Homo sapiens: one gene and its partner. The protein of the gene in region 1 interacts with the protein of each later gene in a pairwise test. Each region holds a gene or a part of one and is shown on either strand. Other genes may lie near its edges. The genes, in order: ZMYND11 and ZHX1.

The links.
Region 2: the proteins of ZMYND11 (region 1) and ZHX1 interact in a two-hybrid assay, tested with the Homo sapiens proteins (2 studies listed by BioGRID and IntAct).

Annotation. Positions count from the first base shown.
Region 1 is NC_000010.11:130,776-138,633, forward strand, and holds the start of ZMYND11 (zinc finger MYND domain-containing protein 11), read left to right. Parts: upstream 1-4,679; 5' UTR 4,680-4,784; intron 4,785-4,822; exon of another isoform or gene 4,823-4,897; intron 4,898-5,033; exon of another isoform or gene 5,034-5,642; intron 5,643-7,858. UniProt on the Homo sapiens protein: Chromatin reader that specifically recognizes and binds histone H3.3 trimethylated at 'Lys-36' (H3.3K36me3) and regulates RNA polymerase II elongation. Does not bind other histone H3 subtypes (H3.1 or H3.2).
Region 2 is NC_000008.11:123,250,125-123,257,401, reverse strand, and holds part of ZHX1 (zinc fingers and homeoboxes protein 1), read left to right. Parts: intron 1-1,230; 5' UTR 1,231-1,455; coding exon 1,456-4,077; 3' UTR 4,078-4,080; intron 4,081-7,081; 3' UTR 7,082-7,277. UniProt on the Homo sapiens protein: Acts as a transcriptional repressor. Increases DNMT3B-mediated repressive transcriptional activity when DNMT3B is tethered to DNA. May link molecule between DNMT3B and other co-repressor proteins.

The DNA of each region.
Region 1 (7,858 bases):
GAATTTGGACTCAGGTGCACTAGTGCATATTCTTCTACATCATGCTATAGAAGAGAGTCGGGGCCGGGCACGGTGGCTCGCGCCTGTAATTCCAGCACTGGGGAAGCCAAGATGGGCAGATCACTTGAGCTCAGGAGTTCGAGACCAGCGTAAGCAACATGGCGAAACCCCATCTCTACCAAAAATACAAAATTAGCTGGGCACGGTGGCATGCACCTGTGGTCCCAGCTGCTCGGGAGGCTGAGGTGGGAGGATCGCTTGAGCCCAGGAGTGGATGTTACAGTGAGCCAAGATGGTGCCACTGCACTCCAGCCTGGGTGACAGAGTGAGCCCTATCTCAAAAAAAGGAAAACAGGGACCAGGGAGACAGGGAAAAGGTTAGAATCACAATTTTGAAGGAAAGAAGGCACACACATACACAAACATCTGTTTTTCATCTTGTGTGATGAGTTGCCCTTGAAAAGACAGGATCCTACTTTTCCTTAAATGTTTTGAAGCATATTAACCTGAGTATGGGAGGACCTACTTCTAACAAATACTGTACATTCATGGACAGAAGTGGGGAACTGAATTTCAGAAGCCACAGCTATGGAGCCCTGAAGAGATGCCCGGAGCCTGGGTTTCAAGGCCCACAGGCACTGGAACTAGGCCTGGCAAGCACTGTCAGCTCAGCTCCTCGGTTGCTGTGTAGTAAAAAGCTGCCACTTAAGTATTGGAAGAATCATGGCTTTCAATGGAAATGGATTTCTTATACTGACAGTTTCTCCTGGAGAACGTCTTGCTCTGTTGTCCAGGCTGGAGTGCAGGGATGCAATCATAGCTCACTGCAGCCCTGACCTCTTGTGCTCAAGCCATCCTCCTCCCTCAGCTTCTCGAGTAGCTGCGACTACAGGAGTGAGCCACCACATCTGGCTATTTTTTTTTTTTAATTTTGTAGAGATGCGTCCTCGTTATGTTGCCCAGGCTGTTCTCGAACTCCTGGCCCCAAGTGTACCTCCCGCCTTGGCCTCCCAAAGTGTTGGGGTTATAGATGTGAGCCACTATTCCTGGCTGAAAGTTTTTTAAAATTAAAATATGGATAGTAGCAGTTTCAGTCTGAGCCACAGAGGGTGGCAGCATCAATGAATGGTAACTGCTGTTACAGAGTTCGGACCACAGCTTTCTAGTTTCAAAAACATGATTTTTAAAAGCATCCACAGGTGACTGGAAATCCTTAAGCAACATTAATAAACTTGTTATATAGTAACTTATATGCCAGAATGTTAATCTAATAGAGGAGAAGATAAGGAGAAACCACAACCATATTCAAAACATCAATATCTAATACTAAAGACTACGGAAAACTGTTATCAGAAGTCAGAAAGGCATGGAATGAAATCAAAGAACATTGTATAGTCTTAGAAAATATTTCATTGGGGCAACCCGTTCGGGTCCCCTTCCACGCTGTGGAAGCTTTGTTCTTTCGCTCTTCACAATAAATCTTGCTGCTGCTCAAAAAAAATATGTAATATAATATATATATTTTATATATATATATTTTATTGGTCTCTGAGAAAGTCTCCCTTTGCAGTACGAACTAACCTTGTGGAGTGGCTAGATCATGACTGCTCACTTCAGCATCTGTCTCTTACTGAATGTTTCTTATCCTCTTGCTTTCTTGGGGGTCTGAGGATGGGGGGCTGTAGCATGTGTAAGAGATGACACTCACTAGACACACATTTTTGAGGGCTGCCCCGCAGCAGGAAGCGGCTCTGGAGGCCATGGGCCAATGAAGGTGCTGTGACGTTTACACTCACAGCCATCTGCAGCAGTCCACACTTTATTACAGTTACAGTTAACATTTTCTTCCACAGTATTTCCTGATAATATTTAACAAAATAAATAATGAGACTAAACCCTAACTCATGTCAAATGAGTTTGAGCAATTATTACCTTACACACACTATACTGTCCCAATAGCCAGGTAATGAAATCTGATCTGGACACTCATTCTAGAAAATAGAGCAGTGCTGTCTGATTGGGGGCGGGAGGAGTATTCCCACGTCTTGGTCCTGCAGAGACAGCTCCCCGACAGCTCTGAGAAGCCCCAGGGCTCAGTGGCACCCGCTTTGAAACTCACCAATGCAAAAAGGAGAATCAAGAAGTAAAAATCTGTCTGTATTCAATTGTATAAACAGTATAGCTTTGTCATGTAAGATACTAGCACAGCAATTAGTTACTGGTCTTCTGGGCTTCCTCCAAACCTCAAACCTTTGGTCCCCAGACCCACACACACACATTCATTCAGCTGAGGGGCAAATGAGATAAATCAAACTGTTTTAATGGCCTCTTGGTATGCATTTCAAGAGAGTTGACATCAACCCAATTTTCTGCCAGCAGTGTATATAAGCGTTCATTTCGCTAACCATCAGTAGCATTATCACTGGAAAAGAATTCTGTCCTTTGAAGAAAAGCAATGTTACGTTGTTTGAATGTGTCATTACTAGTGAATTAGAATAGCTGTCAGTATTTATTAATAGTTTTATTTCTTCTATTGTACATTATCCATGGCTTTTGCGTTTTATGTGGGGAGGGATATTCGTATTCATCTTAGTGGATAAATACCACCTTACTTGGAAAATAGAGCCAAGGGTTAAATTCTAGGCAAAACCAACAGGAAAATCAGGGTAAGTTATCTAACTTACATTAGGTTGAATGAGAGATGGTATCTGCGTATAAAATTTTAAATGATCCCTACAAAGTATAACTGGGAAAAAAATGTGGAGTTATGCTGCCACTTCTTTCCTAAAAGGTAAGCTTCCTTTTATTGATACGATGTTGTCTTACTCGAGTGCCTTCTCTAAAATACACAGAACCATGCAGTCCTCTATTTTACAGATGAAGTAACAGACTGTTTAAAAAGGTGACTCACTGAAAGCTCTTCATTGTTGGAATTCCTGGCCCAACATTCAAACCAGGCATGGCTTGCTTTTCTTCTGACACGTTTTAACCCCTCTACTAAATTTTTAGCGATATATATTTACTCTTAAAATGAATTACAATTATTCTGTGATGTTCTTTGAGATAATCAAAAACTCTCTGGGATGTATCAGATTGAGGGCTGTGAATAGCATGAAAGATTGTGTTTATTTGACTAGTGTATATCACAGACCTATTCAAGTACCACCCATTTCTAAATTCTAACAGTCTTAGAAACCAGCTGTAGAAGCAGATTGATATATTTTATCAGAATCCCCAAATTCCTACAACCGTCTCTTCCTAATGACTTTTCAGGTGGGGACACGTGCCAAGACGGCCAATAGATACCTGAAACCCGGGGTAGTGCTGAACCTTACTTACACTACGTTTTCTCCTATACACACCTGCCTATAATAAAGTTTAATTTAGAAGTCAGGCACAATGAGAGATTAACAACACTAATAATAAACCAGAACAATTATAACACTATACTGTAGTAAAAGTTATGAGAATGCGGTCTCCCTGAAAACACCTTGCTGTCCTGTACTCACCGAATTTCAGAGCAGAGGACTCTGACTGACAGGTGTTCCCCGACTCCCAGTGGCGAAAGGTCCTCAGGGAAAACAGGTGAACGCTATCAAAGTATGCTTATCTCCGAACCTTTCTTAAACCAGAGTCTTAAGGGATCGTCTCTGATTAGGTCTAGAATTCCTCTCCATAGAAGATAACCTACTTCTCGCGCAAATCTGCAGTGTTCTTGCAGGGCTGCTGATGGGTGGTCCTGTTCTTTTCGCGGTCCTGTTTGCGCAGAGATGAAACGGGGAACTTAGCGTATCCCTACCGCTCTTTTTGATGACAGGAGTAAAGGGCTGTTCAGACTACCTAAACAATGTTGTTAAGAGAAGCACTCGTACTTCTCAGACTTCGCTGTTCCGGACCCCGCGAGCCAGGGGCAGGCACCGGGTCCACCCGGGGCTGAGCTGCGGCGGCGCCTGACAATGCCCCCTCGCGCCCCGGCCTCGGCGCCCGCTCCCGGCTCCAGCGCGCCTGCACGTACGTAGCCTTCACGTGTGTGTGGATACGGAGTGCATGTGTGGAGACAGAGGAATATGCTCCAACAAATTTCGGATAGAGGCGCCGAAGACAGGACGTGGGGAAGGTAGGAGCCGCGTGCACGGCTCCGGCCCCGGGCGGGAGGCGGCCGCGAGCCGGGCCGGCCGCGCGCAAGTCCGGCGCCAGCCGCTAGAGCCCCCAGTGCGCGGCCCGGCCGCGGGGCGCCTCGACCCGACACAATAAACTCCGAGGGCGGGCGGGCCGAGGGGCCGGTGGGGCCGAGCGGCCGCCCCGCGCGCATCGCCATGTGAGCGGCTGCCGCGGCTTCGCGGGGACCCAACTTTCCCGGGCGGCGGCGCCCAACTTCCCGCCGCCCGCTCCGGCCCCGCAGGCCCGCGGCGCCAGGGGAAGACGCGAGTAAGTGCGGGCGGCGGTGCCCTCCCGGCCCTCACCCCGCACGCGGCGACCCGGCCGCCTAGCCTCCCTCGCTCAGGCGCGACCGCGGCGTTCTCTGAGGTGGAGTATTACAAACATGGCGCCCCTCGAGCCCGGAGCCCTTCGCGCGGAGCCGGCGGCGGGGTCCGGGCGGGGGGGAGCCGGGGAGGAGGGAGGAGGCCGGCAGGGAGGAGGAGGAGGCGGCCTGAGCGTCCCCCCCGCCCCCCGCGCCCGTCGCCGGCTCAGGCCCGAGAGGCGCCGGGCGGCGGGAAGGAGGCGGCACCGGAGGGGAGGGCCGGGCGCGGCGGCGGCGGCGGTGGAGGAGCCGGAGCATAATGGTGGGGAAAGCTCGGCGGCGGGGCGGCGGGGCGGGCGGGGGCGTCCGTGGAGATGGCGCGGCCCGCGCGGTGGAGCCTGCCTGGCCGCGGCCTCTGGGGCGGCGGCGGCACCAGTGGGTGCTGACGGTCGCTCGCCCGCTCGCGAAGAGCTCCGAGCTGCCGGGGAGCTTTGTGGATGGCGGGGCGGGCCGGGCCGGCGGGGCCTGCGAGGGCGGCGGCGGGGCCTGCGGAGGCTGCCGGCCCGCGCCCACTCGCCTTGGGCGGCCGCGGAAGAGGCCCCGGGATGAGGCCCCGGAGGACCGCGCGGGGCCTGCTCGGGCCGGGAAGCCGCGGAGTCGCGTGAGCACCGCCCGCCGGGCCCTGTGCCCCGCTTTCGGTCAGGCCTCCTGGGCCCGTGCGCAGTCCGGGCCGGCGGGGAACGCGGCTCCGGGCGTGTGGCGGGCGGAGAGGAAGCGTTTGTCGGCGCGGCACGTCGTGTGCTAGCCCGGGAGCGGCGGGCAGGGCTGGCCCCGAGGCCCGGGGCGGAGATTCGTCGGTCCCCCGGGGCTGTGAGCGACCCCGGCAGCGAGGCCGCCGCCTCAACAGGTCCTCGCGGACCTCCGGGACAGTCCTGTGGGGTCCGCCGCCCTCCTCCCACCCAGAGCTCCGGGGAGAAGCTGCTGAGGACGCGGCTGGGACGAGGGGGGGCGCCGGGACCCGGACTTTCACTTGCAGTCTCTCCTCGCGCTTTTCTCCCGAGCCGGGAGGAGGAGGAGCTGGCGATGTGTGCGCCGTGCCCGGTGTCTTTTGCAGAGTGACCGCCGTACCTGTTTTATTCGTGTGTACCAGTGCTCGTTGTGCAGTGCGGTGTCCTATGCGGTGGGTACGCAGTACCGGGGATTATATATGGTGTGTACTCTGTGTCATATGCAGTGTGCTCGAAGTACCCGGTGTCGTACCGGCTATCATACACGGTGTGTACATGTATCTTCCTCGCTTAGGCTGTGCACTCAGCCCCCGGTATTGTGTGCAGTAGGTGCCTGGTACCCTGCTGCCATATGAGCTGTGCGTGTGGTACTCCATGTTATATACGAGTGTATGTAGTATCTGGATAGTATTGAATATATTTACCTTACCTGTTGTCACATACAGTGTGTATGTAGTACCTGGTGTCATATATGCGGTGTGTATAGTACCAGGTGTCATATACTGTGTGCACACAGTACTTGGGGTCATATATGGTGTGTACATAGTATCCTTTCACACTGTGTATGCAGCACCCAGTGTCATATACAGCCCTTACGCGGTTCCCGGTATTTTGTGCAGTATGTGCACGGTACCGTGCTGCCATATGCGGTGTGTATGCAGTATTCAATGTCATATACGTTAGGTATATAGTATCTGGTGTCATATACAGTGTATATACACTACCTGGTGTTATCTATGTTTTGTATATATATCTGGTGGCATGTACAGTATGTATACATTACATAGTGTTATATATGGTGTGTAGGTAGTACCCAATGTCATATGCCATGCATATATGGTACCCAATGTCATATGCACCATGCATGCACTATCCTTGTCACATAAGCTGTACTCAGTGTCAGATGCAGTGTGTACCTAGTACCGAGTGTCATATGTACTGTGTACACAGTACCCACTGTCATATTCAGGGTATCTAGTACCCTGGGTCATATACAGTGTGTACATGGTATCTGGTGTCAAGAATGTGAGCCTGGAGGAGATACCCAGGTGGCCCATTCAGGACCCTGCTGGTAGGAGGGAGTGGTGCAGGTTGGGTTTTTAGGGAGGTCTAGAGCCCTTGGTCCTCCTCACTTAGGTGTTCTGCATCCCACAGTAAGCTGAGTCATATGGAGGCAAGAACATTCTTAAAAATAATTTAATCTGTTTGTCCAAAAGCAGAAAGTAAATGTTTACTTGTTTTCCTGTAAACTGAGAAATATAGTAATTTTAGCTTAGTAATTATGGTGTGCACAACGTTTTCAGATTTTTGAGGTTGATTTTAATTAATGGTTGGATGTTATCAGGGAGATAGTGTTGGTTGTACTTTGAAAGTTGAAAAGTTAGAGTGCTTTCTGGTAGGCAGGGTCATCTTTGTAGTTTTTCTGAATGTCTTTTTACAAGCAGGAGAAAAAATATGAATGTCTGTAGAGGCATTTAATTTGCCTTGTCTTTGACTAACTGGCACAGGTTACATTATAGTTGTTATTTTTGGTTGACTCATCTTTATAAGATGACCAGGCTAGAGAATCAGAGATCAGAGGATATGGGATGTGATTATGACAGAATCAAAATATTTGTCTTGCTTGACTCTGTTACTTAAAGGATTTCTGTATTTCACATGGTGCTTTTCCCCCATAGAGATTGCTCATATGAAAACCAACTCTTCCTTTTACAGTCTCTAAATTGGACAATTTATTTTTGCAATTACCATTTGTGAGGTGTTTAAATAAATGTACATGTACGAGCTTCCAGCTTCACAAAAAGAAATCAATTAAAATGTTAAAATTTAGTTCTTTCATTCATACTGAATACCATTCTGTTGGCGTTTTTTTTTTTTTTTTTGAGATGGAGTCTTGCTCTGTCGCTCAGGCTGGAGTGCAGTGGTGTGATCTCGGCTTACTGCAACCCCTGCCTCCCAGGCTTAAGCGATTCTCATGCCTCAGCCTCCCGGGTAGCTCGTACTACAGGCATGTGCCACCACACCTGGATAATTTTTTGTATTTTTAGTAGGGGGCCGGGGTGGGGGTGGTTTGCCATGTTGGCCAGGTCTCAGACTCCTGGCCTCAAATGATCCACCTGCCTTGGCCTCCCAAAGTGCTGAGATTACAGATGTGAGCCACCGCACCCGGCCCTGTTGGCGTTTTGAATGGATGTCATGCATGTTTCAATGAATGACATATGTTTATTTGGACTCTCATCCTTCGGTAACCCTCTGAGTTTTTTCTTCTTAGGGTTGTTACAGTAGTGTATAATAGAGGCATTCATACTCTTTGGCATACCTTAATTGAGACACTACTTGGACCTAACTAAGAATTTTAATACTTGCTATAAAAGTATCAAATGTTGCT
Region 2 (7,277 bases), on another chromosome or scaffold:
TAAGGAAACAGGAGGAAGGAAAGTGAGGTTAGACTAGGTTGTGAAAGGGATTATATGTCCCACAAGGAGTTTGAACTTTATTCCTTCAACATTAGGAACCTGTGTCAGGAGACTGATGTGATTAGATCTGCTTTATAACTTTTGGTAGCATTGTGGCAAGTGCTAAGAATAATGTTTCTGGTAGGCCAGGCACGGTGGCTCATGCCTGTAATCCCAGCACTTTTGGAGGCCAAAGCGGACAGATCACCTGAGGTCAGGAGTTCGAGTCCAGCCTGGCCAACGTGGTGAAACCCCATCTCTACTAAAACTACAAAAATTAGCCAGGCGTGGTGGCAAGCGCCTGTAATCCCAGCTACTCAGGAGGCTAAGGTAAGAGAATCATTTGAACCCAGGAGGTAGAGGTCACAGTGAGCCAAGATTGCGCCACTGCACTCCAGCCTGGGTGGCAGAGTGAGACTCTGTCTCAAAAAATAATAATAATAATAATAATGTTTCTGAAACTTTGATCATTCATCCTCCATCTTTGCTATTTTTGCCATACTTGAAGCATGCTTTTGGCTGATGAGATAGACCAGTAGGAAGAAGAGGACATAACTAATGAACTAATGGATTAAATTTCTTGTCTTTTTTTTTTTTTTGAGATGGAGTCTCACTCTGTTGCCCAGGTTGGAATGTAGTGGCATGATCTTGGCTTACAGCAATCTCTGCCTCCTGGGTTCAAGCGATTCTCCTACCTCAGCCTCTGGAGAAGCTGGGACTACAGGCACCTGCCACCACGCCTGGCTAATTTTTGTGTTTTTAGTAGAGACGGAGTTTCACCATGTTGGCCAGGCTGAATTTCTTACACACTTAATGGCCATAATATTTTAGTATCTGTGAATGCTTTTTATAGTGTTAAAGTTCCTCCTTGTTAACATTGCCATTTCACATTAATAATAGTGTGCTTGCCAAAGCAGGCCCTTTCCCCCTTGTCTTCTAATATATAGCTGGCTAAAAAATTTAAATGAATAAGCTTGTGTCTGACCCAAGGTAAAGTACTTAACATTCAATGAGTTGGCCTGGAGAGATTTATTTTGATCTTTAGAGGACATTTTTTTCTGATTCTTATCTTATTCTAGATCTTTGTAACTGAGCTATCCAGCCACTTCATATAAGTGAACTATAACTATAATTTGTTTAAAAGATCATAGTTACTCATTTTAAAACATTTTAAAATTTATTTTAATGTAGGTGATTGGAGTTGTGCTTCAAAAATTTCAGAAATTCAGCAGTATTTTATCTGCCAACAATAAGCTCTTTACTTGATTGCACCATGAGAAAGCTGCTAATGAGACTTGTTGAGCACAAAAATGGACTTGAAGAACCAAAAGCCATTGTTTTCAAATGAAGAACACTGAACAGTTTTAAGCCTCGATGCTTTTTAATCACCACTGAGCTTTTCCTCATAACATCAGAATGGCAAGCAGGCGAAAATCAACAACACCTTGCATGGTCCTTGCCAGTGAACAAGATCCAGACCTTGAGTTGATATCAGATTTGGATGAAGGTCCTCCTGTGCTTACACCTGTAGAAAACACCAGAGCAGAGAGTATCTCAAGTGATGAAGAGGTTCATGAATCTGTGGATTCAGACAATCAGCAAAATAAAAAAGTTGAAGGTGGATATGAATGTAAATATTGTACTTTTCAAACTCCAGATCTAAATATGTTTACTTTTCATGTGGATTCGGAACATCCCAATGTAGTGCTAAATTCATCCTATGTTTGTGTCGAATGCAATTTTCTTACCAAAAGGTATGATGCACTTTCTGAGCATAATCTGAAATATCACCCAGGAGAAGAGAATTTTAAGTTGACTATGGTGAAACGTAATAACCAGACAATCTTTGAACAAACAATAAATGATCTGACTTTTGATGGTAGTTTTGTTAAAGAGGAGAATGCAGAGCAAGCAGAATCTACAGAAGTTTCTTCTTCGGGAATATCTATCAGTAAAACTCCTATCATGAAAATGATGAAAAATAAAGTGGAAAATAAACGGATTGCAGTTCATCATAACTCAGTTGAGGACGTTCCTGAAGAGAAAGAGAATGAAATCAAACCAGACCGTGAAGAAATTGTAGAAAATCCAAGTTCTTCAGCTTCTGAATCTAATACAAGTACTTCCATTGTAAACAGAATACATCCAAGTACTGCCAGCACGGTAGTGACACCAGCAGCAGTTCTTCCTGGATTGGCACAGGTGATAACTGCTGTATCTGCTCAGCAGAATTCTAATTTGATTCCCAAAGTCTTAATCCCTGTTAATAGCATTCCCACCTACAATGCTGCATTGGATAACAATCCCCTTTTACTTAACACCTACAACAAGTTCCCTTACCCAACAATGTCAGAAATTACAGTTCTTTCTGCTCAAGCAAAATATACAGAGGAACAGATCAAGATATGGTTTTCAGCCCAACGTTTAAAACATGGTGTTAGTTGGACTCCCGAGGAAGTAGAGGAGGCAAGAAGGAAACAATTCAATGGAACAGTGCATACTGTACCTCAGACCATAACTGTTATTCCTACACACATTTCCACAGGGAGTAATGGTTTACCATCTATTTTACAGACATGCCAAATAGTTGGTCAGCCTGGTCTGGTCCTTACTCAAGTGGCTGGAACAAACACCTTGCCAGTTACAGCACCTATAGCCTTGACAGTGGCAGGCGTTCCAAGTCAAAATAATATACAGAAAAGTCAGGTACCTGCTGCTCAGCCTACTGCAGAAACAAAGCCAGCAACAGCAGCAGTTCCAACTTCTCAAAGTGTCAAACATGAAACTGCATTGGTAAACCCTGATTCATTTGGCATTCGGGCAAAAAAGACAAAAGAGCAACTGGCAGAATTAAAAGTTAGCTACCTTAAAAATCAGTTTCCCCATGATTCAGAAATTATCAGACTTATGAAAATAACAGGCCTGACGAAAGGAGAGATTAAAAAATGGTTTAGTGACACAAGGTACAACCAGAGAAATTCAAAGAGTAATCAGTGCTTACATCTCAACAATGATTCCTCTACCACCATTATTATAGACTCCAGTGATGAAACCACGGAATCCCCAACTGTTGGTACTGCACAGCCTAAGCAATCCTGGAATCCTTTTCCTGACTTTACTCCCCAAAAGTTTAAAGAGAAAACTGCAGAGCAGCTTCGTGTCCTTCAGGCAAGTTTTCTCAACAGCTCTGTACTTACAGATGAAGAATTAAATAGGTTAAGGGCACAAACCAAACTTACCAGAAGAGAAATCGATGCTTGGTTTACAGAGAAGAAGAAATCAAAAGCTTTAAAGGAAGAGAAAATGGAAATAGATGAAAGTAATGCAGGTAGTTCCAAAGAAGAAGCTGGAGAAACTTCTCCTGCAGATGAATCTGGTGCACCTAAGTCAGGGAGTACAGGCAAGATATGTAAAAAAACACCTGAGCAGCTGCACATGCTTAAGAGTGCATTTGTCCGGACACAGTGGCCATCACCAGAAGAGTATGACAAGTTGGCCAAAGAAAGCGGGCTTGCTAGAACAGACATAGTTAGTTGGTTTGGGGACACCCGTTATGCTTGGAAGAATGGAAACTTGAAATGGTACTACTACTATCAGAGCGCCAATTCAAGTAGTATGAATGGTCTGTCTTCCCTTAGGAAAAGAGGGAGAGGGAGACCCAAAGGACGGGGAAGAGGAAGACCGCGTGGGCGGCCTAGAGGAAGCAAAAGAATTAACAACTGGGACAGGGGACCATCACTCATAAAATTTAAAACTGGAACTGCAATACTTAAGGATTATTACCTGAAGCACAAGTTTCTTAATGAGCAAGACCTTGATGAACTTGTTAACAAATCACATATGGGCTATGAGCAGGTCAGAGAGTGGTTTGCAGAAAGACAGAGAAGATCAGAATTAGGTATAGAATTATTTGAGGAAAATGAGGAGGAAGATGAAGTTATTGATGACCAGGAAGAGGATGAAGAAGAAACAGATGATAGTGACACTTGGGAACCTCCACGACATGTGAAACGGAAGCTGTCTAAATCAGATGACTGAAATGTAAGTTAAGAAAATTTTTAATCTGCGTATATGTTCATCAACCACATACATTTTGAACAGTCACCTTGTTGTATCAGTCATCTTCATTTTTGATATTTTCTGAAGTAGTTTTTCTTTTCCCTAATAAGACTAGGTACCACTAGTATAGCTAAGAGATAAATGATTATCATGTGTAGTTTTATTATTATTATGTAGAGTTTAATGTCTTAATTATTATTTTTCATATGAATTGGGTTTTTTTTACTTTGTTTTGAAGGAAAGTTACCCAATCTCTATGAAGGGAGACTGGCAGGCAGGTTGAGGGGATTCACAAACAAATACTAAAGATAACTAAAATGTATTTTATTGCAATGCCCCCTTCACTAAAGCTTCATTTTTTGCCTATTTAAGGAAATAATTCAAAAATGAAAACTAAAAAGAAGGGGAAAAGTACACCAAAGGAAAGACTTACCACAGGGTTGAGGATTGTGCAGTTTTAGGAAACTAGGTGAAAATGGGTATCTTTTCATCTTCATTGCATTGCTCCCAAAACTTTACTAGACTTTTAACTAGAGTTTAAAATGCTTTATGTATTTATGAAATTACTCAGTATCTTTTTAGTAATTTATAAAATTACTCAATATCTTTTTCTGTTAAAAGTCAAAGGTCTGTTTTAGGCCATATATAAATTCATGTTTGCTTAGGCGGCATCTGTCTTTGAAAACTGTGATATAAATTATTTCTGTTTTAGAGATCAAAAGGCAAATAACAGATTTGATATAAACCCAATTGCTTAAAATATCTTTTCATTCTTTGGTATAAAACAAACCTGCTACCAGCACTAACATTGTATTTGATTTAAAGTATATCTCTGTAGTCTTAAAAATGCAAATAAATATGGCTTAAATTTGAAAGGTTTTGGCATGTTCCTTAAATCTTAGTTCTTTTATAAATTGGATTAATTAAAGTTGAACTGTAGTTGCAAATCAGATACCTGCTTTGGAGTTAGGAATTGAATTCTTAATACTTCTGGAATTTAATAACATAGTTTTATTCTTTGCTATTCTTTGTTTTGGAGTGTTCCGGGGTAAAAGTACACTGTTTTGAAAACAATGCAGTTGTCATGAAATGTTTGTGTATGTCTGTCAGTAGTCCAAATAGCATCTTGCTATCAGAAATGACTGCTGTGTTCAAACAGTAAGGAAGGAAATGAGACGTAGACCCTCATTATTATTTTATACGTGAGCATGCTTACTTATTTCCTTGGCTTTTTGCATGAGTATCCCATCCCCTACTTTTATGCTCTGTTATTCTGTGCAGTTTTTCCTTAATTCCCTTACATCTTCTCTCTGGTTTTATTTATTTTAACAATTATTTATAGAGAGCTTAATATGTACCAGGCACTATTCTTACTGCTTGGCAATCCTTTTTCAGGTTTTCTCCTTGTTAATATTTTTTAAGGGATAACAGATGAAACTAAAAATGTACCTGTTTTAATAAGCAGTATAAATATCATTCCAGGTTATAGGGTATAATGTAATCATTTTAGGTTATAAGAAGTTAAACAGTTTCATACAGCTTTATCCTGAAGTGCAGCCCTCCATTTCCTAATGTCAGAAATCTTCAGAGCAGGCTTTCTTCTGACCCAGATACATAAAATATTTTTAACAGGCATTTTTTTTATTGCTAAACACAAGAATGTGCACTCAGCCAAGATTAAATCAACAAATTTGTTGCTGCAGTGAATGTTGTTGTTGTAACCTCTGCAATGATTTTTTTGGGGAGTTGCAGTCTTCCAAAAATAATGTGAATTTTTCTGTACAGTTTAGTTTGACCTTTAATTTTGTATAGATAATTCTTATGTTATATATTAACACTGTAATGGATACTAATTCTGGTCAGAAAATTCATCCTAAAACTACAGTTTTCAAAAGACTGTATGATGTATGCTATACATGCACTGTATTAGTCCATTTTCACACTGCTATAAAGAACGACCTGAGACTGGGTAATTTATGAAGAAAAGAGGTTTAGTTGACTCACAGTTTTGCCGGCTTAACAAGAAGCATGACTGGGAGGCCCCAAGAAACTTACAGTCATGGCAGAAGGCGAAGGGGAAGAAGGGGAAGCAAGCACATCTCACCATGACCGAACAGGAGAGAGAGCGAAAGGGGATGTTCCACACAACTTTCAAACAACCAGATCTCCTGAGAACTCACTCACTATCATGAGAACAGCCAGAGGGGAAGTCCACCCCCATGATTCAGTCACCTCCCACCAGGCTCCCTCCCCCGACACTCCCTGATTAAAAGTTATGTATGGGCTTATACAATTTCAAATGTAAAAACAGCCTATTTACATATGTTGAAACAATAAGATTTTGTGGTATCACTGTCCCTTAATAATTACAATTCAAGGTAAGATTTGGATGGGGACACAGAGCCAAACCATATTATATACTTTTGTGATAGCATAGAAGCATGCCTTTTTAAATACACAAAAGTCTAAATTTCTGAAACATCAAGTTATCCTTGGCTGAGTAAAATAATTTTTCACTTATAAGAGGATTCACCATAGCCTTCTCTAAATAGTTATTTCTTCATTTAAATATTGTTCAATTTACCAAAAAAGTTACCAAAACCTTCCCAAAATAGTTATTACAGGAAGTGAGGTACATATATATCTTTTGCACCTTGTATAGAAATAGAAAAAAGTACAAGTCTTTAGATTTCATAGTCTGCTTATTACAGATACTGACAATGAAATATATACTCCCTGCTCATACAGTTTGAAATAAATTATTACATAAAGATGATAAATGTTTATAAGCAAATCTAGCATATGAAGAACATATACATAGATGAGTTGCACACAAAGCCTAGTGTATTATGGAAGACATATGTGGCAGGTAATCTCAAGAGAATACAAAAGATGTATTTTCACTTTTATTTCTAAAAGTAGTAAAAATTAAAATATGGTTTTCTTTAAATTTTCAGTTTTTTATGATGTTTTTCTTTTTTAGCTGCCTAAAACGTTGAAGGAGAATCAATTCTTCAACTCAAGATGTCTGATTTACTGTGAATTTGCCCAATCTTTGATGACATTGAAAACGTTTTGGGGCATACACACTCAAAAAGCAGGATCCAATACCCAAAAGAAATGGAACTTAATGTTGTGCCAAAGTTAAACTACTGCAGTTGGTGGAAGTTCTGCAATGT